Linked DNA regions of Homo sapiens. The protein of the gene in region 2 interacts with the protein of the main gene of each other region in a pairwise test. Each region holds a gene or a part of one and is shown on either strand. Other genes may lie near its edges.

Region 1 (7,030 bases), on a different chromosome or scaffold from region 2:
CTGTGAATAGCAAGGTCTTAGCGCACAGGTGTCAACATTGGGCCTGGGAGGCTTTAAAAATGCTGAAATCAGAGTGGGCCTCACAGCAGCTGATTCAGTCACCCTGGGGTGTGGCCCGGGCTGAGGAGGTTTTGAAAGCTCTCCAGGCGATGGTGTTGGAAGGGGCGGAAAGCTGCCTTCGAGCCTCAGCCTGGCAAGCAGCACCTGCCAGCCAGACCTTGAGGAAAGGGGAGCAGCTCTGTCCCACGGATTCAGATGTCACTGGAAAGGCAGAACGAGGAGGCACCTGGTCTTGTAGGTTCAGGCCAGCCTTGGAGCTGCCCTCCACCCATCCCTGCCTAATGCAGCCGGAACTTCGTCTGCGGCTGCTTTTCTGAACTCTTGGCGTCCTGTTTCTCCTCCTGCACCCCAAAATTAACGCAGTCCTGCCCGTGGCTGGCATTGTCACCAGGCCTTGCAAACACCTCTGTCGGACTTTGCCCAACCTCCCTGGAAACACACCAGGGGTTTTGGAAGGACTGCAGTGGTAAAGGTTGTGGCGCTCCCTGGGACACTGATTCGGAGTGTGGTTGTGTGCAGCTGAGCGTTTGGCGGTGGGTGAAGCCACGTGGACTGATGACTGTGGACCTACACCTGCAGGGATGGCCGTGGGCCTGCGTGTGTGTGTCAGCGTGGCTGGGAGCAGGCTGGTGGTACTGGCAGCCGCTTCCACGTGGGTGAGGGGAGGGCCTCTGTCTGCAACATCCCTCATCAGTTCCCCCTGGATCCCAGCCCGGGGAGGGGGAGAGGGAAGGGGGGCTCAGCTTCCCAGGACCCTAAGCTGCTCCTGGGAGAAGAGAAGGATCCCAGTATCCGGTCAGAGGCTGCAGGAAGCGCTTGCCTCTCCCTGGCCCAGGGCTGACTCCGCCTCTCTTTTCTGCAGATTTTCCGCCGTGCGGACAAAAATGGTGAGTTTCCCTTCCAGGCCGACGGCCGCCCCACTCCTTCTGTCCTCGTGCTTCATGGGGAAGGGATCAGGGATAGGAGACAAGCGCAACCTTGAACCTAAAGGTTTGGAGTGCAGGGGTCTGAAGTTAGAAGGCCAAATCCTGCTGCTGCTCTGTGCCTTGACCTCCCTGTCTGTAAAACGGGAATCCTAGTAGGGCCTACTTAGTAGGGACAGCTCCACTCAAGGGCTCAGTGAGTCTTGTCTGTGATGCCAAGAACAATGACTGGCCGTGGTAAGGGCTGGGTGTACTTTAGGCCTTTTCCTAGCTGGGCTGGACCAGAGGAGCCCGGGCTGGGGCCCAGAAACCCTCCTTGAAAGGAAGCCGCCAGCCTCACGCTAGGCCCTTCACAAGCCTTGGTGCAGTTCTTCATCGTAGCAACCTGAGCAGTCAGTGCTCTTGCCTCTGTTGACACCATAGCAGCCCAGAGAGGTTAAGCAATTTGCCCCAGGGTTGCCCAGCTGCATGAAGGAAACGGAGGCTCTCCTGAAGACCGGGGCCCTTTTCCCTTTCTCTCTCAGCCTCTTTAAAAATGTGAGCAGCGCCTTGTTGTGGCCACGGAATTCATAGCGCTCCACTTCTCCCGACTCCTTGGAGGGGCTTCACTTGCAGAAGGAGCCCAGGCCTTGAGAGAATAAGCACGTTTAGGCGGCCCAGCTGAGCCTCGGCTGACAAAAAGCACCTTCTTAAAAATACCAGAATCATTATTACAGTTGCAACGCAACTCACCGTGGACTTGAACCAAGACAGATTCCCTCTCTGGGCCTTGGTTTTCCCGTGGGTAAAGTGGGGCAATAACACTTGCCCTGCCTCCTTCCCTGGGTTTTGGGGAAAAGCCAGAGAGGCGGTGTGGGTGACAAATGTTTTTAAAGAGAATCGCGTGCTCCCGGTATGTTCATTCATTGAGAAAATGCACATCAAGTACCAAGCCTGTGGCAGGGGAAGAGCACGCAACAGAGACCCTGTGACCTGCCCCAGGGCCCTTGGTCCCCAACGCCTCTGGCCCCGGTTCCTCTCCTGCACAAGCTGCAGTTGAGGGTGGCAGCTCTGGCCTGGGTCTCCAGCACCCGCCTCATCCCTGGGAGTTCCTGTTGACGGCTCCCACCCAGGGCGGTTGCAGGGTGGAGTTGGAGGCCTTGGGCATGGTGGGAGGGCAGGTGCACAGGCCTGGGCTGGAATCAGTTCCAACGAGTCTCCCACCCTGGCCTCCTGCATCCCTGGGGGGTGACAGTGACCACTCCCAGGCCTCTGGGGAAGAAGGACCATCAGCAGTGATTCCATACGGAGCAGAGGAGGAATAAGAGGGACGTAGGGAGATGAAGTGGCTCTGGAAAAACAGCCGTAGCATCATGGCCTGAAAAGCCTTGGAGATGAGGAGGGGAAATCAGGGGGCTGTCCCTGAGATGGGGTCGCCGGAGCCCTCAGCGTCATTGCCTGTGTGCTGGCCTGGCTCCTCCAGCAGGTTGAGAGGTAGGGATTTGGGTTTGTCCCTTGTCCCGGGCCTGATACCCAGCACACAGTAGGTCCTCGGTAAATGTCTGTAGACTTGGTGGACGTGTTTGTTGGTGAGAGCGTGGCTGTGCGTATCTCGGTGACTCAGCAGCGTGAGGCTGTTGGGAATGCGTGTGTCCAGCGTGGGCCTCTAGCCATGGCTGTGCATCCCGAGTGTGTGTGCAGTTAGTGTGCGTGTGTGGCTTCCTGAGTGTGCAGCTCTGCAGGAGCCACTGCAGTGTATACACTTGGGCAGGTGGTGCCTGGCCCCCTCGGGCACAGATGGGGTTCTGTCCTTGCTGCAGGCTCCCCCCATCAGAGGCCATGTGTCCACCCCCTGAGCACAGCTGTGGGACTCTCAGTTTCCTTACTGCAGCCTCCTCAAAGGCCGAGCCTGTTCCTTCTCCTTGGGGCTTACATCTTACCAGCCACCACTATGTGACCGTTAGGGGCTGTCACCAGGGTGAATGTGGGTGTGAGATGCGGGTTCCAGCAAGAGCTTCCCAGGTCCCCCAGCCTGACTGCCTAGGCTCAAGTCCTGGCTCAGCCGCGTACCGGCTCTGGCCTCAGGCAAGTCACCAAATTCTGCAGTCTCAGTTTCCTTATCTGTAAATGGGAATAATTACAGCACCCACCTCAGAGGGCTGTCTGAGGATAGATAGTTGCTCTCCTGGCTTCGCTCATTGAAGATATCAATAAGTCCCCGCTGCTCTGCCTCAAATGCCTCGGAAATGGGAGTCCGCAGGTGTGGCTTGTCCAGAGGGGTTTGATTCCTCTGTGCTCAGCAGGGAATTCGGTCTGGGGGAGGCTGCCAGCAGTCACTGAACGTCTGTTATGCACCAGGACTTGAATGTGCTTTTTCCTTTAATCTTCATTGTGATCCTCCTGAGACAAGAAGTATCAACCCCCACCCTCCTTCCAGATGACGAAAACAAGGCTCGGAGATGGCACGTGATATTCTTCACATGGTCGGGGGGCAGCGGTGCAGGCAGGTTCTGATTCAACACAGCAGCTTAAAAGCTTGTAGGAGTGGGGATGGGACTTGGTGTGGGTATAGATAGGGGAGTGGTGTGGGAATAGAATGGCTGGGGAAAGAGGAATGAGTGTAGGGGTGAGAATAGGTGTCAAGGAGGTGTGGATCCAAGAATGAGAGCAGGTGTGCAGGGAGGTGTGGGTGCAGGGATGAGAGCAGGTGTGCAGGGAGGCGTGGGTGCGGGGATGGGAACAGGTGTGCAGGGAGGTGTGGGTGCAGGGATGGGAACAGGTGTGCAGGGAGGTGTGGGTGCGGGAATGTGAACCGGTGTGCAGGGATGAGAGCAGGTGTGCAGGGAGGTGTGCAGGGATGAGAGCAGGTGTGCAGGGAGGTGTGGGTGCAGGGATGAGAACAGGTGTGCAGGGATGAGAGCAGGTGTGCAGGGAGGTGTGCAGGGATGAGAGCAGGTGTGCAGGGAGGTGTGGGTGCAGGGATGGGAACAGGTGTGCAGGGAGGTGTTGGTGCGGGGATGGGAACAGGTGTGCAGGGAGGTGTTGGTGCGGGAATGTGAACCGGTGTGCAGGGAGGCGTGGGTGCGGGGATGGGAACAGGTGTGCAGGGATGAGAGCAGGTGTGCAGGGAGGTGTGGGTGCGGGGATGGGAACAGGTGTGCAGGGATGAGAACAGGTGTGCAGGGGGTGCAGATGTGGAGGCCGATAGGCCCACAAGCACACACAGGACTGCTCAACACTGACGCTAGCCCTGCCTCACGTGTCCACAGGAAGGATGGATGGGATGCCTCAGGGGAGCGGGAGATGGGGTGCAAACTCAAAGGACCCCCCAGGCTGCCCTTAGGACTTAGAGATTACAGGAACAAAGGCTCAGGGCTGCCCTGTCAGGGTGGCTCCTGTGACAGAGACTTGTTTGGCTGAGCTGGATACCGGATGCCCAGTCCCTATGGGAAGGTTAGCATGAGGGGCCTGACTGGCAGCCTGGGACATAAACTCAGGGGGTGGCAGAGGGCTGAGTGGCAGACAGCATTTCCCTTCAGGGACATGGACGCTGACAGGCTGACAGGCTCTTGGCATTTGAAAGGTCATGGAGACAGAGAGTGAGTTTGTGCTAATTAGCAAAGACACCTGCAAACGGCCCGCTTGGGGTCTCTGGCAAAAGTGCCAGCGCGGGCCCGCTTGGCCTGTCTAATTGGACTGGGGGCCTACGTAGGGCATGTTTTTTCCTCATTAGTGAATTCATTAGGGCCGTGATCAGGCGTTCAGGATAAATGTCAGCCGAAAGCTTAGTGAGGGGGCACCTTGCTGGCCTCTGTCTGCCTGCTCTCCCTGTGTGCCGAGGGGGCACCTTGCTGGTCTCTGGCTGCCTGCTCTCCCTGTGTGCAGAGGGGGCCCAAGGTACCTGGACAGGCACGTGGGGAGATGAGCCAGCCAGAGGGAGGCTGGGATTGGGGCTCACAACCCCTGTCATGCCCATGGTGACTGCCCCTCACCCAAAGTGGGGGTGCCTGAGCCAGCACCCACCCCCTGCTGGGTAGGTGGCGATGTCGCCACAAGATCCTACCCCTGGATTAGGTTGAGAGCCTGGACTTGGGAGCCAGATGGCCTGGGTTCAAGCTTCAGCTGTAGGACCTAGGCAAGTACCCTAAGGGCTCTGTGCCTCAGTTTACCCCTCTCTAACATGGAAGTGGTAGTACTACCTGTGTCGTGAGTGTTAAGAAGACTAAAGGAGTGAGTCCGTGGAAGGTACTCCACGTGTGGTGTGACTCCACACTGGGATTCCTGGGTTTTATCTTCAGGCTTGCCGAAGACACTCGGAAGGCATCCTCTGTCACAGAACACAGAAAGCAACAACTTCGATTTCACTTATCTCGTGGCTGACTTTGCGGACTTTTAGTTGTTAGGTTTTGGGTCTTTGGTTTGTGCATGTGTGGTTGGATTGGGGTTTTTTTGGCCTTTCCTTTGAAAGACAGAAATTCTTCCCACTGTAACCTTGAAATCTGAGCTGCGATGGGGGCATCTTGGGATATTGGCCCTAGCCCCCCGTGCCCACACGTTCATATTCTTTACCGGTCTCTGATACTTTATGCTCTATGGGGTTAAAGAGAAAAGTGGTGGCATGAAACCTTGGCAAGATCTGAGGACCCCCCCTCTCCTGAGCTTATGCTCTCACCCTGTGTTGAGCTCCAGCAGAGCTGCTGGGAGCACAGACAGAAGCACTGGAGCCTTTAAAGTTTAAGAATGACTCATTCTCAACCCAAGTACGTCTGCCATGTCGGGTTAGGCAGGTTGTGCGCTGCACAAGGGCACCCACCCGAGGAAATGGAGGGTTTCAAATCCAGGCTGCAATCCGCTTTCAACACATGTGCACTGACACTGGTCTCATCCTCTCGGCAGAGAAAGGAGAGTCTTTTTCTAATCCATAGGAAGGTGCCATGTGGACTCTCAGGGCCCTTGTCCCAAGCACCCAGCTTTGAATGCAGATCCTCTGGAAGTAATGCCAGGGGTTTATGCAGAGAGGCTGGGGGCCAGGAACTGTCATGGGCTCCCTCTTGTCTCTGACCTCCATGCCACTCACATAGTTTCTCTTAAGGAGGAACAGATCCTTGAGGAGGGGGGAGGTGGCTGCAGGGCAGGTGGGGGATGAGCTTGCTGGCATTTGCTCAGCAGGTCTGTTCAGGTGGAAGGAGCTGAGGGTGGAAGCTTAGGGACCGCCTCCCAGAGTCCCTGATGTTCTTAAGCCACCTCCCCTGGTGGCCCAATCTGATCCAAACCCACAAGACCTTCCTGGTAGGGCCAAAAGTGTCCCCAGAGCAACTGCAAGTGAAGGGAAAAGGTGAGGCGATGGGTGGGACTGGTGGCATGTGTCCCACCCATCCCTCCACAGAGCCCCTCCACAGAGGAGCTGTGGAGGCCCCTCTGTGGAGCTCCACCTCAGAAGCACAGCCTCTGGCCAGAGCGTTGGCACCTCCAGGCCTGGCACCTCCTTCCTGCATGGCTTGGCATCTAGATGGCTGCATCTGTGGCCTGGGAGAGGAGGTAACTGAGAACCTCATGCCGGCCATTGGCAGCCATCTCATGCTGCCTCAGGGAAGGACCTGAAGTTTGCCACATAGATGGGGCGGAGAAGAAAGGGTTCTTCTGTACTCTAAGAACAGTGCTGAGAGAGTCAGGGCTTAGGGGCTGGGATTGGGGTTGGGAGCATGCAGAGACCACTTGGCGTTTGGAAGCTATGGAGTGGTGGCTCATCCAGCTGCTGGTTTTTGGATCCACTTCATACCGATGGTGTGACATGGGACAAGTTGCTCACAGTGGGTTATCTTAAATAGCACCTGCCTCCAGGTGGCCATGTAAATTGAGAGAAAATTCACTGGCAGGGGGCAGATACTCTATATTTGTTGAACGCATGGAAAATGTTGAGTGCATGGTGAGCCCAAGAAAGCTAGCTATTGCATTATTGTTAGTTTGAGGATTATCTGTAAACAGGCATTGGTCTGGGAATTAGCTGGATGAGGCATGATTCTCTGTGTACTGGAGTTTACTGGTTAGTGTGGGAATTAGCTGGGTGG
Region 2 (7,030 bases):
AGAGCACAGCTTTCGCCTATCAAACACAAAGGCTGGCTGTTCAAAAAGAAAGATAAAACTAACAAACCTTTAGCTGAAGGTTCTTTCACTAAAAACAGAGAGAAAAACAATGCAAATGCATACAATCAGAAATAAAGATGAGATATTACAACTGATATCACAGAAATACAAGGGATCATAAGAGACTACTGTGAACAATTACACATTAACAAATTGACTGGATAATCTAGAAGAAATGGATAAATTCCTAGAAGCATACAACCTACCAAGACTGAGTCATGAAGAAAGAAAATATGAACAGACCAATAATGAGTAAGGAGATTAAAAAGACCTCCCATCAAAGAAAAGCCCTGGTCCTGATGGCCTCACGCAGTACCTGATTTTAAAATATGCTACAAAGCTAAAGTAATCAAAACAGCTTGGCACTGGCATAAAAACAGACACATTGACTAATGGAACAGAATAAAACCCAGAAATAAATCCATGCATTTATGGTAAATTGATGTTTGAAAAAGTTGCCGAGAACATACAATGGGGAAAGGAGCTTCTCCCATGAGTGGTGGTGGAAAAACTGGGTATGCACATGCAGAAGAAACTCAACCCTTACCTCACACCATACTCAAAAATCAACTCAAAGTAGATTAAAGACTTAAACATAAGGCCTGAAACTGTAAAAATCATTAGAGGAAAACATAAGGAAAAAGCTTCTTGACATTGGTCTGGGAAAAGTTATTTTGGATATGACCTCAAAAGCAGAGGCAACAAAAGCAAAAATAGACAAATGAGACTGAACAAACTAACAAGTTTTGCACAGCAAAACAATCAACAGAGTAAAGAGACAACCTATGGAATGGGAGAAAACATTTGTGAACACCACACTGGATAAGGGGTTAATATCCAAAATATGTAAGAAACTCAACTCAACAGCAAGAAAACACAAAACCTGATTAAAGAATGGGCAAGACCTGAACAGACATTTCTCAAAAGAAGACATATAAATGGCCAATAGGTATTTGAAAAAAAAAATGCTCTGCATCACTCATCAACAGAGAAATGAAATTCAAAACCACAATGAGATATCACCTCACCCCTGTTAGAATGGCTATTACTAAAAAGACAAGATTTAACAACTGTTGTTGAGAATATGGACAAAAGGGAACCCCTGTACAATGCTGGTGGGAATGTAAATTAGTATGGCCACTGTGGAAAACAGTATGGAGGCTCCTCAAAACATTAAAGATGAAACTGCAATAAGATCCAGTAATCCCACTTCTGGGTAAATATTTTGAATATCGGAAACGAAATCAGGATCTCAAAGAGGTATCTGCATTCCCACGTTCACTGCAGCACTATTCACAATAGTCAAGATATGGATTCAACCTAAATGCACGTCAATGGATGAATGGATTAAGAAAATGTGGTACAATACACAATAAAATACTATTCAGCCTTAAAAAAGAGGGTAGGCCAGGCACAGTGGCTCATGCCTGTAATTTCAACACTTTGAGGGGCCGAGGCAGGAGGATCACTTGAGGTCAGGAGTTCGAGACCAGCCTGACCAACATGGCAAAACCTGGTCTCTGCTAAAAATACAAAAATTAGCCAGGCGTGGTAGCAGGCACCTGTAGTCCCAGCTACTTGGGAAGCTGAGACAGGAGAATCACTTGAACCTGGGAGGCAGAGATTGCAGTGAGCTGGGATCGTGCCACTGCACTCCAGCCTGGCTGACAGAGCAAGACTCCATCCCAAAAAAATAAAATAAAAATAAAAAAGAGGGGAAGCCTGTCATTTGCAATAGCACAGATGAACCTGGATGACATCATGCTATATGAAATAAGTCAGGCACCCATGCACAGAAAGATAAACACTGCATGAACTCACTTATATGTGGAATCTAAACAAGTTAAACTCATAGAAACAGAGAGTAGAATGGTGGTTGCCAGAGGAAGAGAAAGTAGCAGGAGGGGTCGGGGTAGGAGGGACACAGATATGGGGACATGTTGATCAAAGGTAACAACAAAGTTTCACTTAGGAGGAATTAGTTCTGTAGGTCTATTGTACAGCATGGTAACTGTAGTTAAAACTAATATATTGTATGCTTGAAAACTGCTAAGAGAATAGATATTAAATGTTCTCACCATCCAAAAAAATGATAACTATGCGACGTGATAGGTTAATTCACTTAATCAGTTCACAATGTATATGTATATCAAAATAGCACAGTGTACATCACAAATACATGTAATTTTTATTTGTCAATCAAACCTTAATAGAGCTGACCAAAAAAAAATGAGAAGATGGCTAGCCCATCATTGACCCTAAATTAATGCAGAAGTTAATTTGAGCACTTGTGATTTTCAAATGGCTAAGGCCTTACCCACTATAATTAGCTTCTAATAAGAGTCTGTACTATCTTTGGAATCTTTTACCTCTCAATGGACTTATGAATTCGCCTCCACTGAGGATAATGAGCTTCTTGTTCAAAGCCACCTCCTTTGGCTCTAGTTTGCTGAGCCACGTTCAGGGATCGGGTGTCAATGATGTAGCCACGCTTTCCAGCCCTGAGGGTAGCATTTATCAGCTTCTCGTCCTCCTTGCACCTCCTCCCGTTTGTACCAGTGAGTGGCTGACCACTTCGCATAATTACCTAGAAGCATAATAAAGCTGAAAATTCAACAGCAGTTGCTTTTAAAGTTTCTGAAAACAGAAAGAAATTAGCTAGATTAAGAGTATCTCAAAAACAATTGTGTGACACTCTGCAGATGGATTTGATCCATAAACAAAGAAATATTTGCATGTATTGACAATAGTTAATAACTATAAAAGATAAGCCTTAAGCTTTTACACAATTTCTCTGTCTCAAAATACTGTCACATAATAAATTATATCTCCTCTTTAAGATCAAATATTGCAATTCATTTAGTGTGTGAATCAAATACCTGTAGACCTGGACCTGTAATAAAGACAATAATGGCCTATGAGCCAGTAAACCTTGACTTCAACTAAACATACATAGAGTTGGCAGGTTTTAACAACAATTATAAGAAGTAAAGGCACCAGTGGCAAAATTTAAAAGTTCAAACACTGTTCTCATTGTTTGGGAAATCATTTTCACTACCTCAGAAGCTGACTGTCTATTATGTATTCTCCAGTGGCCTCTACCATCCTTTTCAGTATTCAAGGATTTAACTACTTGTTTCTAAAAACTACCCCACCAACTATACATCTGGAAATGTTTGCTTTTGAAACTTTTCTCTAGAAATCAATGTCTATTATACTAATCTCTTCCCTGGCGAATGGTTTAGAGTTCTTTCAAGACGCCACCATTACAAGGTAGTTATCTTAACTCCTTGTTTAATCCTGACTCCAGTGTTTACTAGAGTTGTGACTAAATGACATGAGCATCACTCTTTTCACCTTTGAAAATAAATACGTCTGCTCCACCTTTCACGTGTAAAGTTGTTAAGAAAAATTCAAGTATTTTACCATTATTCTGAACAGAGAAATTTCTCATTTTTCTACCAGAAGAATGTTGCTGTAAGCATCAAATAAACACTAGTTTCCTTTGTATAGTGTCCTGGAGATAAAGCTATCAGGGCTTTTATACGGCTGAGCAGGATCATGGAAAGAATTCAGCATCACATCCTCACCACAGAAAACACCCTACTCCTGATTCCCTAAAGCTTACATGAAGGAAGCCCTTGTGGTGGAGACCTGGACAATCATTTCAGTGAACAGACAGAGAGCAAAAGGGAACATTTCTACGAAAAGATCCCCAACCCAAGCCTTTCAGTACATCAAGCAGTAGTGCTGTGCACTTACCATCCCATTTTTTTTGTGGTAATAGCTTAGTACTGGGAAGCGCCCTCCATGTCGAAATGTAGCTACCTTCCGAAGAGCTTCATCATCGATGGATTTGGGCACTGTGACAATTGGTGGGTAAGAGGGACAGACAGCAAATTCCTTATTGACATAGCTTAGCCTCCATTCACTGGTCTGAAAAACACAAAATACTTCAAAGCTAAGCAACTATCTCAATGTCGCAAAATAATCTGAGAAATTTTAAAAGACCTTAGAGGTCAACTTTCACTGATGAAGAAGCCATTTCTCAGGAATTTCACAGGTGGATCTCTAGCTTATATGTAAGTAGCTGCAGAGAAAAGGAGCTCTATGGTTCAGGGCCAGCTTCCTGCATTGCTAGGTATCACCAGTTCCCAGAAAGTGCTTTCTCACACTGAGCAAAACTTGTTGCTCTGTAGCTCCCTCTATTGGTTTTTACTGTACTTTCAGACAACACCGTACAAGTTCCCTATTTTACACGGTATCCCATCAAATGTTTGAAAGACAGCTGATCCTCCTTAGTGTTCTATTCTCCAAGTTAAATATATTAAGCACATCCACAATTATCACGGCCAACATCATCCTACTTCTTCCTTTTCTGGGTCCCATTTAGTTTGTTAATGATCCTCTTAAAGCACAAGTAAGACTGTACGACTCCAGATAATGCATCCCCAGAACAAATGAGAACACAGCTACTATCTATATCAAACCCTTTGTTTATTTTAAAAAAGGTAAAAAATGTACTAAGATTGGTAACACCTTTCTTAAAACAGTACCAACTCAATACTAAGGAAGGTTAAGCTTAGGAGTCAATGAAATAATTTCAAACTGAGTAAGGACTAGAAGTATACAATATAAAACTATCAAATGACAACTTATTTTAAACATCAGAATTAAAAACAGCTTGAACACTGTCAAAAGGTTTTACAGTAAAAAAAAAAAATCAAATTATATGTAAATTTCAATATGTTCTGTATATCTGAGTTGGCCTAACCATGGGTTACAATAGCAGGAAGATAAAGCTAAAAAGTATGTTAGACGTACTAACAGACAAGATTATTACTTTTAAAAAATGCTTTTATAAGATACAGTATCACATTTTTAATTAAATTTTTTCACTTTTCAAAGTTATTTATGTTACCAGTTTAAAAACATAGTTTCTAGGCTGGGCACAGTGGTTCACACCTATCATCCCGGCACTTTGGGAGGCCAAGGCAGGCAAATTGCTTGAGTTCAGGAGTTCAAGACCAGCCAGGGCAACATGGCCAAACCCCATATCCACTAAAAATGCAAAAATTAGCCAGGCACAGTGGCACACACTTGTATTTCCAGCTACTTAGGATGCTGAGGTGAAAGAATCACGGGAGCCCAGGAAGTCGAGGCCACAGTGAGCTGTGACAGCGCCACTGCACTCCAGCCTGGGCAACTGGAGTGAGATTGTTTCAAAAAATAATTAATTAATTAATTTAAAAAAAACACAGTTTCTAAAGATTTATTATTTTTAAAAAAATGTAGTTATCTGTTCCTTGCTAGCCCATCCCAATTTGCTTTCCCCAAAGGCAATCATTTTCAACATTTTTAGCTTTTTCAGTGTTTACCTTTACATTTCTAAACAACATGATAATACTGTTATTTCTTGAACTTTCACTATGATATATTATTATTGATTTCCTACTCTGGAGAATGACAGGGCTCTCCATTGATCTGCAATGCCGCTTCTGTTGGTCCAAATGTACTGTGCTCTCCATCCCGTCGCACTTGTCCACTTTAGTAACTCCTATAGCTTTTAAAATAAGTTTGGTATCTAGTAGGCCAAGTGTCCTCCTCTCACCTTTTTGTTCTTCAAAGAGTAACGTGGCTCCTCTTGGTCTTTTGGTCTTCCATGCAACTTTTATCAAATTCAATATAAAAACCAACTGGGGTTTTTATTAAGATTGTATTGACTTTATAAATCGGAGGGAATGACTTACATCTTTAGAATATTCAGTCTCTCTATCCATGAGTATATTGTCTTTTCCATTTGTTTAAGCTTTCAAAATTTTTTCCATAAATTTTTATAATTCTCTCAATAAAGGTCTTACTATCTTTTCTTAGATATATTCCTAGAAACCCAATAATCTTTGTTGCATTTTAACTGCATCTCTTCAAAATTGTGTTTGGTGTACAGAAATGCCTATGATCTCAAGATTCTTTCCTTTTCCTATGTAGACAAGCATATAATCAATAAATATTGACAATTTTGCTACCTTCATTTCAATCCCTATACCCTGTATTTTTCCTTCTTGTCTTATTGAGCTGACTAGAAGTAGTCACAATGGACATCCTTGCCTCATTCTTGAACTTAGAGAGAATGATACAAGATTTGCTTTTTTTATGTTTTTGGTTTTGGTACCCATCCTTTATCAGATTAAATAAATTTCCTTCAAATCCAACTCTAAGAGCTTTTATCATAAATAGATATTGATCAAACTTTTTTCCTCTGTTAATCTAACACCATGCAGGTCATTTGTCTTTTAACTTTGTGGTATTTTCTTTGCTTTATTGTTCAGTAGCTGAACAACAACATGTCTAAAGATTTTTTTATTATCTTGTATGGTATTTGCTGGGATACCTCAGCTTAAGGGTTCAATAACTTCTACTGATTCTGGAGAATTATCAACCATTATGCATTTGAATATTGTCTTTCTTCTATCATCACCTTTTTTTTTTTTTTGTCTTCCTCTTTTTTTTTTTTTTTTTTTTTGGAGACAGGGTCTTGCTCTCTCACCCAGGCTGGAGTGCAGCGGCATTATCACTGCTCACTGCAAACTCAACTTTCTGGGCTCAAGCCATTCTCCCACCTCAGACCCCCAGGTAACTGGGACCAAAGACACACATTATCACACCTAGCTAAATTTTTTCATAGAGATGGGGTTTCACCATGTTGCCTAGGCTGGTCTCAAACTCTCCTGAGCTCAAGTGACCTGCCTGCCTCAGCCTCCTTAAGTGCTAGGATTATAGGTGTGAGCCACCATAACCAGCCTCTATCATCTTTTATCCTAAACTCCCATGTAATAAATATTGGATCTTCTTCCTTTATTAAGCATGCATGTGTCTAACCTCTCTGTTTTTCCATCTTCCTTCTCTGTTCCATATTCTGAGTAATTATTTCGGATCTATATTTCAAATCACTTATTTTCTCCTAAGCTGT
Region 3 (5,319 bases), on a different chromosome or scaffold from region 2:
TAGCTACTGTTGTGGCATCCAGAGTGCCTCCCTACACTCCCATTTCGCCCCTCTTGACAGCCCCATGACAGAAGAGTGTCATTATCCTTTCGCAGAAGAGGAAAGAGTTTCCAAGAAGTTAAGAGGCACTCTGGGCAGGTGGAAAGGACATGGACCTGGGGGCTGGATAGATGGTCTGGGTTTGAAACTTAGCACTGCCATTTATTAAACCTGTGATCCATGGCCAGGCACCTAATATCTCTGGTCCAGTTTCCCAGCCTATATGATGGGAAGAGTTCATGGTATCTCCCCAGGGGAGTTATTGAAGAACAGAGCCATGGTTCATATTTGGCCTAGAGGCATTCAGTGAATGGAGTTTCTTTTTTTTTCTCTTGCCAAAATCACCCAAAGGAGAGGCAGAGCCAGCCTGGGCATCTGACCCTTGCTGGAGCTGGGGTGAGCAGGGGCCTTGAGCTCTGGGGTCCAGCCCCTCTGCCTTCTGCCTTCCCCTCTCCTCAGGTCCTGGGGAGTCAGAGAAGGTGCAGCAGCTGGAGGAACAGGTGCAGAGCCTGACCAAGGAGCTGCAAGGCCTGCGGGGCGTCCTGCAAGGACTGAGCGGGCGCCTGGCAGAGGATGTGCAGAGGGCTGTGGAGACGGCCTTCAACGGGAGGCAGCAGCCAGCTGACGCGGCTGCCCGCCCTGGGGTGCATGAAACCCTCAATGAGATCCAGCACCAGCTGCAGCTCCTGGACACCCGCGTCTCCACCCACGACCAGGAGCTGGGTCACCTCAACAACCATCATGGCGGCAGCAGCAGCAGTGGGGGCAGCAGGGCCCCAGCCCCAGCCTCAGCCCCTCCGGGCCCCAGTGAGGAGCTGCTGCGGCAGCTGGAGCAGCGGTTGCAGGAGTCCTGCTCCGTGTGCCTGGCCGGGCTAGATGGCTTCCGCCGGCAGCAGCAGGAGGACAGGGAGCGGCTGCGAGCGATGGAGAAGCTGCTGGCCTCGGTGGAGGAGCGGCAACGGCACCTCGCAGGGCTGGCGGTGGGCCGCAGGCCCCCTCAGGAATGCTGCTCTCCAGAGCTGGGCCGGCGACTGGCAGAGCTGGAGCGCAGGCTGGATGTCGTGGCCGGCTCAGTGACAGTGCTGAGTGGGCGGCGAGGCACAGAGCTGGGAGGAGCCGCGGGGCAGGGAGGCCACCCCCCAGGCTACACCAGCTTGGCCTCCCGCCTGTCTCGCCTGGAGGACCGCTTCAACTCCACCCTGGGCCCTTCGGAGGAGCAGGAGGAGAGCTGGCCTGGGGCTCCTGGGGGGCTGAGCCACTGGCTGCCTGCTGCCCGGGGCCGACTAGAGCAGTTGGGGGGGCTGCTGGCCAATGTGAGCGGGGAGCTGGGGGGGCGGTTGGATCTGTTGGAGGAGCAGGTGGCAGGGGCCATGCAGGCATGCGGGCAGCTCTGCTCTGGGGCCCCTGGGGAGCAGGACTCTCAAGTCAGCGAGATCCTCAGTGCCTTGGAGCGCAGGGTGCTGGACAGTGAGGGGCAGCTGCGGCTGGTGGGCTCCGGCCTGCACACGGTGGAAGCAGCGGGGGAGGCCCGGCAGGCCACGCTGGAGGGATTACAAGAGGTTGTGGGCCGGCTCCAGGATCGTGTGGATGCCCAGGATGAGACAGCTGCAGAGTTCACACTACGGCTGAATCTCACTGCGGCCCGGCTAGGCCAACTGGAGGGGCTGCTGCAGGCCCATGGGGATGAGGGCTGTGGGGCCTGTGGCGGAGTCCAAGAGGAACTAGGCCGCCTTCGGGATGGTGTGGAGCGCTGCTCCTGCCCCCTGTTGCCTCCTCGGGGTCCTGGGGCTGGTCCAGGTGTTGGGGGCCCAAGCCGTGGGCCCCTGGACGGCTTCAGCGTGTTTGGGGGCAGCTCAGGCTCAGCCCTGCAGGCCCTGCAAGGAGAGCTCTCTGAGGTTATTCTCAGCTTCAGCTCCCTCAATGACTCACTGAATGAGCTCCAGACCACTGTGGAGGGCCAGGGCGCTGATCTGGCTGACCTGGGGGCAACCAAGGACCGTATCATTTCTGAGATTAACAGGCTGCAGCAGGAGGCCACAGAGCATGCTACAGAGAGTGAAGAGCGCTTCCGAGGCCTAGAGGAGGGACAAGCACAGGCCGGCCAGTGCCCCAGCTTAGAGGGGCGATTGGGCCGTCTTGAGGGTGTCTGTGAACGGTTGGACACTGTGGCTGGGGGACTGCAGGGCCTGCGCGAGGGCCTTTCCAGACACGTGGCTGGGCTCTGGGCTGGGCTCCGGGAAACCAACACCACCAGCCAGATGCAGGCAGCCCTGCTGGAGAAGCTGGTCGGGGGACAGGCGGGCCTGGGCAGGCGGCTGGGTGCCCTTAACAGCTCCCTGCAGCTCCTGGAGGACCGTCTGCACCAGCTCAGCCTGAAGGACCTCACTGGTGAGGGGACAAAAGGCATGAGGGGACCCCTTTCAAGCCCCTTATTTTTCTTCTCCCTCCCCCAGCCCAGCTTCCAACTCATCTGCTTTCTCCTTGCTTTTCCCAACATGAATTGCAGCCCCAGCCAGTATTCCAGGTGTTATAGTTTGCCTGCAAGAGATGATGCAAGGTCCTAGCTCCCGCCCTCCCTCTGGCTGCTCACTAGGCCTGTGGGTGGAGAGAGGATGTTGCTCTGCCAGCCAGGGATCCAGCATATGCAGCAAGGGACCCCATGGCCCCCTCAGCCTGCAAAGCTCCACCTGTTCCATCCATCTTCTCCCTGTTCATGAAGCCACCACCCACCTTCCTTACCCATTGGAAACTCCTTTTATGGCCCTCCTTCAACTCAATTTTGTCACTGTAGGGCCTGCAGGAGAGGCTGGGCCCCCAGGGCCTCCTGGGCTGCAGGGACCCCCAGGCCCTGCTGGACCTCCAGGATCACCAGGCAAGGACGGGCAAGAGGGCCCCATCGGGCCACCAGGTATGTGCACTGAGACCCTTGCTGCAGTCAGGGTTGCCACTGCCCCCTCCAACCCTGACCCCCGCTGGCAGCCCCAGGCTTGACATTCCACTCTGAACTTGACAAGGGGAATTGGGTACTACCTGACCGATAAGGGAAAATCAGAGGAAAGTGAGGAGGAACTGTGATAGTCACTGTGTTTGGTTAATGGGTATTAGGAGGCTAATGGATAATGTTGGCCCCACTGCAGTACTGGAGACTAAAGCTGAGTCTATTATAGCTGTCTGGGGTGTGAAAGGCTGGGATGGCCCAGCAGTTGAACAGAATGGACCCTACCTATTCCTGTTTTTCTTGATACCCCAATTCCTGCTTTGAAGTCCACGTAGCACCGAGCACAACAGGAGAGCCTCAGCAGATGTTTGCTGAGTGACTTAGTGAGAGCTGCTTTATTTCTCACTGCTCCCTTTCCTCTTCTCACAGGTCCTCAAGGTGAACAGGGTGAGTGCCTTTCATTTGATTCTGGAGGGAGAAGTGACTAGGGGTTGGAGGATAGAGGTCCTCGGGCAGCCCTGGGCTGGGGATCCAGCAGGGGAAGGGGGCTGGCACTCTGCCCTGAGCATCCCCTTTAACATCCACCCTTCCCACTCAGGAGTGGAGGGGGCACCAGCAGCCCCTGTGCCCCAAGTGGCATTTTCAGCTGCTCTGAGTTTGCCCCGGTCTGAACCAGGCACGGTCCCCTTCGACAGAGTCCTGCTCAATGATGGAGGCTATTATGATCCAGAGACAGGTAGTCCTGGGAGGGGCTGGGTTGAACGGTTGGAGAAATGGGTGAGGTGTGCAGTGATATCTTCCCATTCTTGCCTTTTCCGACAGTGTGAATCTTCATTCTCTGATTTGGGGAGACCCCGGCTCTTTCTTCATTTATTCATTCTCAGGCAGTGGGGAGAAGAAGTAGTCATTCATTCATTCAGCAGATCTTTACTGGGGCCTGCTCCTGCCCAGGCACTGTTTTAAGTGCTGGGAATGCATAGTGAACAAAGCCCCCAGTTCCCTGCCGCTCACATTCCAGTGAGGTGAAAAGACCCAGAGGGTCCCTCCTCAGTCCAGGAGTTCTGGTGCGCTCCCCGGAGCTTCCCTGGCCCCCCTGACTGCTATCCTTGTCCCCAGGCGTGTTCACAGCGCCACTGGCTGGACGCTACTTGCTGAGCGCGGTGCTGACTGGGCACCGGCACGAGAAAGTGGAGGCCGTGCTGTCCCGCTCCAACCAGGGCGTGGCCCGCGTAGACTCCGGTGGCTACGAGCCTGAGGGCCTGGAGAATAAGCCGGTGGCCGAGAGCCAGCCCAGCCCGGGCACCCTGGGCGTCTTCAGCCTCATCCTGCCGCTGCAGGCCGGGGACACGGTCTGCGTCGACCTGGTCATGGGGCAGCTGGCGCACTCGGAGGAGCCGCTCACCATCTTCAGCGGGGCCCTGCTCTATGGGGACCCAGAGCTTGAACACGCGTAGACTGGGGTCCCGCCCGACGTGTCTACGTCGGCTGAAGAGACAGCGGGGGCGGCGGGCTCCTGGGGTCTCGCCTGAGACGGGGCACCTAGCCCTGGGCGAGCGCCGCACCCGGGCCCGCAGCGGCACCGCGCCCAGAGCGGCCTCTCCCCACGCCCGGGGCGCGCCGGCTCAGGGAGGCTCGGGGCCGCCCATGCAGACTTTTGGCCTGGCGCGATCCCCCAAGAACCCCTCCAGGGCCGGCCTGCGGAGGAGCCGATCCTCGCACCCTCCGCTCCCTCCACTGGCCCTCCAGGTCGATTCCCTGGGCTCCAGGCTCCCCCGCGCGGGCGCCGCCCACCGCCATACTAAACGATCGAGGAATAAAGACACTTGGTTTTTCTAAAAAAAACTAAACGAACCGTTCTGCTACGGTACGGGGTCGGGGGCTGCCGGGCGTGCACAGGGCACGGGGCGGGAGAGACGACGGCCTCCGGAGAGGACCCCGGGTTCCGCACTGCGTTCGCCGCCTCCGCCCGGCTCGGGGCGGCTCGGGGTTGGCTCAGGCAGCAAGCGGCGCCCGCCCGGCTCCTGCGACGTCTCCCCCGTGTCACGCCCGTTTCGCCGGCGTCCGCCAGGGGGCGCTCTGCGTTCCCGCCACGTGAGGCTGCGGCCCACCCGGCGGGTCCTGCTCCTCCGCGGCGGAGGCGTGGCCTCGGCTGGGACTAACCGGGGCGGGGCGGGGCGGGGCGGGGCGGGGCCGCCGCGACCGCGGGCTTCAGGCAGGGCTGCAGATGCGAGGCCCAGCTGTACCTCGCGTGTCCCGGGTCGGGAGTCGGAGACGCAGGTGCAGGAGAGTGCGGGGCAAGTAGCGCATTTTCTCTTTGCATTCTCGAGATCGCTTAGCCGCGC
Region 4 (7,030 bases), on a different chromosome or scaffold from region 2:
GAACTGCATCAGACTGTTCCAGTTACTTTCCTAATACATTGATAATCATTAGGGAACTTGTAAACTGAATAAGTAGCTAATTTCTGTTAGTATCAGTGATACTATTTGTGGTGCTAAATGCTATCTCTCAGCTTCTGATGAACCAAGAGTGAATATATTAAGTTTTTAGCTCTTATAATACTGTTTAGTATTTGTATACATTCAGTAGATCTACTGTTGAGCAAGCCATGAAAATAACTTACTGGATTATATCATTGACTTAGGTTGGGCCTGATCCTCAGGCCAGATGAGAGAAGGAATGGGGAGGCAACTGAAACCATGCCCTCTGTTGCTGAGCTGCCTGGGTTCAAATCCTGCCTCTGTCACTTGAGCTTTAATTTGTTGCTTCTATTTCTTCATCTGCAAAGCTTTGTCATCTGCATGCATCCAATGCCAGCAGGGCTGGGTTCTGGTCTTGTATTGTGGCACAAGAAAATACCCCTATTTTGGTGACTGAAAGCAACACCCATTCTGTTATATCTCATGACTTTGTGAGTCAGGAATCCTAGAAGGGCTTGGCCAGAGGCCTCTTCTGCTCTGTGTGGTGTAGATAGGGATTTCTCAGTGAATGTGGCCAGAGGATCCAAGATAACTTCTCTTGCATACCTGGTGTCTTGATGGAATGGTTGGAAGGCTGGACTCACCTGGACTCCTTAGCATCCCCATCTGGATACTCCAGGAGGGTGGTTGAATTTCTTACATGGACACTCAGGGTTCCAGGAGCGAAAGGCAGAACCGTTCAGCCTTCTTAAGGGTGAGACCTGGCACTGGCACAGCGACTCTGTTGCTGAAAGCAGTCACAAGCCAACCCAGATGCAAGACTCAAAGAACTTGCAGTCATCTTTAATCTGCCACAGGGGATCATTTGGGTTGGGAGGATGGCTTGGGAGGACAAGTCAGCAGTTCTTTTACTACCTGTGCCAGCTTCAGCATACTGGTGAATTTCAAGTCTCATTACCTCCATTTTACAGATGAGGACACTGAGGCTTAGAAGGGTCACATGACTTGCCCAGCCCCTAGAGATACAGATACACATCTGCTTATTGGGCCTTCTGAAAGGTTCCACATAAAAAGAAATTTGTTGGGTTATTTTCCAAGCTTATGGGACAATGGAACACTTTTTTTTCAGAGAGTCCCTATTAATAACCCATGACACATTAAACCTTGGAGTTGGGCAGTTTGCTCCCCTTGTTTTGATCCTGTGCTCTTCATCACTGGCAGTGTGGTTTCTGATGTAGGCCTGCCTCAGAGGAAAGAGTCTCCCAGTGATGCTGTTGTGAGCATTTTGATCAGGGTGACAACAGCATTTCTTAATGTGAATTAGTACATGATGTGCTACAGGGCGATTCATATTGTTTATGTTCTTTTGTTTGTTCTTTGTTCTGTTTTGTTTTTGTTGGTTGGTTGATGTCATGTCACAAGGAAATGTGTAGAATGTTTTCATAAGACATTAAATCCTAGTTTAAAATTTAGAGATGCCAGAACCAAAGTTGTCACCCTTTAACAGGGTGACAGGCTTCATGCTCTATTCTCTCAAATAATTCATTCTCTGAGGGGTCTAGATAGCTAAGATTTAAATTCTCTAGGTATAAATAAAATTCAAAAGTAACCTTCAGGGTAGCACATTTCAAAGAACGTAGCCTGAAACTCTGTATAATTTTTTGTTTTTGGAGACAGAGTCTTACTGTGTTCCCCAGACTGGAGTGCAGTGGTGCGATCTTGGCTCGCTGCAACCTCTGTCTCGGGGATTCAGGGGGTTCTCATGCCTCAGCCTCCCAAGTAGCTGGAATTATAGGCATGCGCCACTATACCTGGCTAATTTTTTGTATTTTTAGTAGAGGTAGGGTTTTGCCATGTTGGCCAGGCTGGTCTTGAACTCCTGACCTCAAGTGATCCACCCGCCTCAGCCTCCCAAAATGCTGGGATTGCAGGCATGAGCCACTGTGCCCAGTTTGAAACTACTTTCTAAGCGCATTTTCAGATTCTCTCTCAAAGATTTACCAGTGATTTATAGTGACAGCTCCTGCCAGCTAGGATGATGAAGAGCACCTGAAAAAATGGTTAATATTTTTACTTAGGCCAGTGTGAATAAAATAAGAATTCCTTGAAATCACTGGAGCTGTATTTCTGTGTGATCCTGGAATTCCTTCTAATCTGGTTAGGTTTGGTTATATTCTGGAAACAGCTTTGTTGCTTGAGTAGTGAGGACAAGAAAGGATTTTCACCCGAAGAGAAGAAATCACATAAGGAAATTCCAGGACAGACAGGAATCGCTTTTGAGCTGTCTCCCTCTACTCCCCATAACCTTGGCATTAACCTGCCGTCCTTCAGACAAGAAGCATGTGTAGACTGTTTCACACATGCAGTAATTTCTTTCCTGTTGAACGTCAGTGTAGAAAGTGAACCTGCATCTGGTTTTTCAGGTCGGTAAATAACCAATATTGCAAAAAGGTGATTGGCGGGATGGTGTGGAACCCAGCCATGCGGAGATCCTTATCAGTGGAGCACTTAGAAACCAAGAGTCTGCCTTCTCGTTCCCCTCCCATTACTCCCAACTGGTATGTCCTCCTTTTTTTTTTTTTTGTACTACCCAACAGTAGACACTTTATCTCTTTTAAAAATAAAAACTCAACTTATAAACTCCTAAAGATAGATGACCTACAATTTGCATTTTAGGCTCTTGGCAGAAGTAACTGTTTTCATGAAGTACACAAGTCTAGCTAAATGTTTTCCATCGTGTATAATGCTGAGATGCTCTTTTTAAAAAAACTTATTCAATCTAAATAGTTTGGGAAACTCGAGCCTGCTGAAAGGCCTCCTTTGGAATCACAGCACACATTAGCATATTAAACACTCTGAGACGTCCAATAATAAAAAAGTACGGTTAGCTTTACTTAATTCATGTTTTCCATTAATATCCCACAAAATAAACTTTAGGGAAAACTAACGCAGGTACGTGATGTAAATGATGTAAGGATGTATGACCTTCAGCAGCAGAAGCAAATGCACATCAGTAAGTAGCAGGCCAACTTAAGAGGATGGACTCAGCTTAAAAAGAAATAGGTGGTCGTTTGGTAAAGTGAGAAGGGCACTGGGTTTGTAGCAGAAAGACCTAAACTCAGGTTTTGGCCCTTCTGTTAATTAACAAGTTTCTTTACCTCTGTAGCCTCAGTTTCCCCATATCTAAAAAGATGATAAAAACTACCGCAAATGAAATAATAATGTACAAGTACGTAGTAAGCTTTTAAAAGAGTCAGGTGGAATTATCATTATCTTATTATAATGGTCCTCAAAGACATCACACCATTTTTGTGAATACCTCCAAAAAGGCTAGGGGCCAGAGGGGAAACCTAGCAGGGAATCATTGCCCCCAGCTCCACACTGGAGTAAGAGTGCGTGGCTGTAAATACCTGATCCAGGATCTGCTAAGCCTAAGAGAAACTGGGAGACAGGCAGACAGAGGAGATGCTGTGCTGGGCCTGCTAGGGAAGGACCCCTTCACTGGGGGCCTAATGCTCTGGGAAGGGACAGTGATAGTATTTAGTGTTAGAAATCATGACGTAACTGAATAGATTTGCTTCTTGGTTTCCAACATTTAGATACCTCATTCTAAAGAGGTAAATTTATGCTATAACACAGCAGCTTAATTTATCTGAAAATCTCATCGGCAGCAATGCCAGGGGCCCAGAGAGCCCAGGACTGGATCCAGGGGAACAGCGGGGTTGGATGTTGCCACACTCGTGGCCCGGAGCTCCTGTGGCTATTTATAGGTCCTCTCCTGAGGAGTCACAAGAGCCTTTTTACTTCTGCTTTGGACACAGCATTATTGATTATCCAGGCCCAGGGGGATTGCAAATCATGGAGGCCCTGACAGTCCTGAGGAGAAATGGCTAACAAAGAAAGGGAAGATGGAAAAACTGTGAGGGAAAATAGAACTTAGAAAGCTTGGCAGCTTGGGATCCCCCGCTGCAGGAGCTGACGCCCAGGTGCCACACTGGATGCCCTGAGAACACGGCCTCATTGGATTCATTCTCAGGAGCAGGTAAGTACAGCCGAGGCCCAGAGAGGTGACGTGCCTTGCCCAAGGTCACATGCCTACTGCCACTGTTGGAGGACAGTCCAGTGTTTATATGCCCATCTAATGCATATAAACGTGTTTAATAAGGGATATATCTTAAAAAGCAAACATTTTCTCTTGGATCAAGTGAAATTCACATGAAGGGATGTCGTTGAAATAAGGTTGGAGTTTTGCTGAGAAATGTAGTTTGGCTTCTAACCCTTTTGTTTGCATTGTTCAAATTAATCAGAAAAATTATCTGAATAGCAGTCCATATGGCCTATTTATGTTTTGAGAGCTTGAGTCCTCCTGGAAGAATAACTTACCCTTAAGTCAATACCCGTCACTTCCCAAAGGGCATAAACCCATCTAATTCTGCCTGTTTATACAGCTGAGGCTACTGTTTTGGGAGCCACCACTTGACTGAGAGTGTTAGGGATTTGTGTCACCCTTGGTGCCTTCTGCTGGGGTAGTAATGAGTTAACCGGCTCTGAATGTCAGCCTCCGCCAAGGAAGGCATCCTTAGAAAGGTCAGGACACGAGGTTCACTGGTGTCTAATAAAATTTTTAAGTGGAATTTGCTTTGAACACTTTGCACTCAACGTTTTTCCCACCCAGGCGAAGTCCTCGGCTCCGGCACGAAATCCGAAAGCCACGCCACTCTTCTGCAGATAACCTTGCAAATGAAATGACCTACATCACGGAAACGGAAGATGTATTTTACACGTACAAGGGCTCTCTGGCCCCTCAAGACAGCGATTCTGAAGTTTCTCAGAACCGAAGCCCGCACCAAGAGTAAGAAACTCGTGTTGTTTTATTTCTGGGTATTTGCTTTTTGGCTGTTGCGGAATTTGCTCAGGTCCAGGTTGCCATTTGAGAGGAACCAAGAGCTGGTGCCTGCAGCCAGCTCCCACAGGTGCCTTCTGCCAGGATAAGAACATAAATCAGACTCTACCTTTTCACCCGGAAGACGGTCTATGTGCCTGGGGTCTAGAGCTTGTACTTCTTTTTGTCCACGACAAAGACTTCCTAGTCACTAAGTACTTGTTAGTCTCTTGAATTAGTCTCCTCTCCAGCTCACAAGCAAAGCCCAGTTTAATCATTCCCTGTTCTGGAGGTACAGACTCTAGGGCCATGCTAACTCTGATTTCTCTAGATTATTAAAGTTTTACCATCACATGATTTCAAATCATTGGAAATATGCTTGCTTCTAAAAGCCTTCTCCGAACAACAGGGTTCTGAGGGGTTTTGTTTTCAATTAATAGTTAGTATAAAGAAACAAACGTTAGAACATCTCTAATTTTCTTTGAGAAATTTTTTGTTAAATTTTTATGTCCTACCTCCCCCACCCCGCTTTTTTAACGTGACAGAGTTCCCTCATAGCTCAAGGACAGAAAAAATGTCTGTCCTGAAAGATGGTTGAGTGCTTTTGTTATTCAATAGGATATATTTAACCCATTTGTTTCCCTTTTTGCCTTGGTTACCAGGGAGTTCAGAACTGCACATTAGGCTCAATTGTATTCACTTCCCTCAGCCCAGATTTCTTGTATAGGACCTTCTCTTCCTCATTTGCCTTTGTTATATGGGTCTTTTTTTTCTTATTTTAATGGATTCATAGTTACATATCTGTACGTTTTGGGGTAAACTCGCAAATCATTTTTTTAAGTAGGTAAGACATAGATTATAAATTAGGTTAAAGCATGATAGTAAAGGATCAACTGTTAGGAAATCAACCATAGTCATTGGGTATCTATTCTGTTAAGCCCCATACTATTTCTAAAATATAGTAAGATAATGGCCCCCCTAACAGCTGAGGATTAGCAAGCAGGCACGTTAGTTAATCTGTAAATTTTTTACCACTGTAGCTATTAGGCTGAAAGCATCAAATGCACCCTGATTGGACTCCAGGCATTTGCAGGTGAATTGCAAATCTCCTTCCCATTTGTATGTGAGGCTGCTACCTCTCCTCTGTCCTTGCCCACAGCAAACATGGTTTCCAGTTTATCTGTGTTCTTAACACCTCTGGTTAAATAATCCCTGTGGTCATTCTTTCCTTGTGACCTGAGCTTGGATGATGCTTTTGCTAAATGATTGCTATCTCTTGTTCCAACTTGCAGCCTGCTGCCCCTTTGTCAGGGCTACAGTGGATGATTGTGAGTTCCTTTGTGTGACTTTGTAGCTTTTCAAACCACAAGCACATCTAGAAATACAAAGCAGGAGTGCAGGCATGCGTGACTAGAGCCGTTTTGAGTCTGCAGTGGGGGCTCTGCGGCTTTGGCAAAAGGAGAAAACGGTTTAGGGAAGCGTTGGAGGGCTCTGGGAAGCCCACTCACACCTGCTGCGTCAGAGCTTCCTGTGGTGGTTTGCAGTCCCATCACAGAATTGTACAGCATCTAAACCTTCCCTGTCCAGTACAGCAGCCACCAGCCCCAGTTGTCTATTCAGATTTAAATTAATTAAAATAATAAAAATGTAGGCATTCAGTTCCTCAGTCACATGAGCCTCATTTGAATTGCTTGACAGCCACACAGGAGTGTTGGCCTCCATCTTGGACAGCACAGATACAGCCCATTCCCATCACTGCAGAAAGTGTTGTCAGCAGCACTCATCTAGACTAACACGTTTATTCCATCGTTCATTTAAAGGGTGAACCCCTAGAATATCTACAAGCGAAAAGTGCATTTTTCACACAGAATTCATGTGGGAGTAGGTTTGGAATCATCACCTTGCTTGCAGTCTGGGCGCTCCACACCACTCACCCAGCTGCTCATCTGTGGCATGGGGCAGGTGGATAGCCTCTGAGTGCCCTCACAGCCCAGCACCCTCTGTCTCTTTATGCAATCAGTGCCAGGTGGGGAGGGATGCATTCTGTCCAATGACATGCAGGCACTTTAGAGGGCTTGCATTCATTCCCAAGTCCAGCGGCACACTTTA

What was found.
Region 1: the proteins of MTMR9 (region 2) and NECAB2 interact in binary tests that used the Homo sapiens proteins (3 or more experiments, as listed by UniProt).
Region 3: the proteins of MTMR9 (region 2) and EMILIN1 interact in binary tests that used the Homo sapiens proteins (3 or more experiments, as listed by UniProt).
Region 4: the proteins of MTMR9 (region 2) and PTPN3 interact in binary tests that used the Homo sapiens proteins (3 or more experiments, as listed by UniProt).

What each region holds. Positions count from the first base shown.
Region 1 is NC_000016.10:83,971,229-83,978,258, forward strand, and holds part of NECAB2 (N-terminal EF-hand calcium-binding protein 2), read left to right. Parts: intron 1-922; coding exon 923-947; intron 948-7,030. UniProt on the Homo sapiens protein: May act as a signaling scaffold protein that senses intracellular calcium.
Region 2 is NC_000008.11:11,301,807-11,308,836, reverse strand, and holds part of MTMR9 (myotubularin-related protein 9), read right to left. Parts: intron 3,997-7,030; coding exon 3,823-3,996; intron 2,648-3,822; coding exon 2,430-2,647; intron 1-2,429. UniProt on the Homo sapiens protein: Acts as an adapter for myotubularin-related phosphatases. Increases lipid phosphatase MTMR6 catalytic activity, specifically towards phosphatidylinositol 3,5-bisphosphate and MTMR6 binding affinity for phosphorylated phosphatidylinositols.
Region 3 is NC_000002.12:27,081,585-27,086,903, forward strand, and holds the end of EMILIN1 (EMILIN-1 precursor), read left to right. Parts: intron 1-498; coding exon 499-2,427; intron 2,428-2,830; coding exon 2,831-2,947; intron 2,948-3,406; coding exon 3,407-3,424; intron 3,425-3,575; coding exon 3,576-3,713; intron 3,714-4,093; coding exon 4,094-4,431; 3' UTR 4,432-4,819; downstream 4,820-5,319. UniProt on the Homo sapiens protein: Involved in elastic and collagen fibers formation. It is required for EFEMP2 deposition into the extracellular matrix, and collagen network assembly and cross-linking via protein-lysine 6-oxidase/LOX activity.
Region 4 is NC_000009.12:109,418,285-109,425,314, reverse strand, and holds part of PTPN3 (tyrosine-protein phosphatase non-receptor type 3), read left to right. Parts: intron 1-2,462; coding exon 2,463-2,597; intron 2,598-3,829; exon of another isoform or gene 3,830-4,081; intron 4,082-4,714; coding exon 4,715-4,891; intron 4,892-7,030.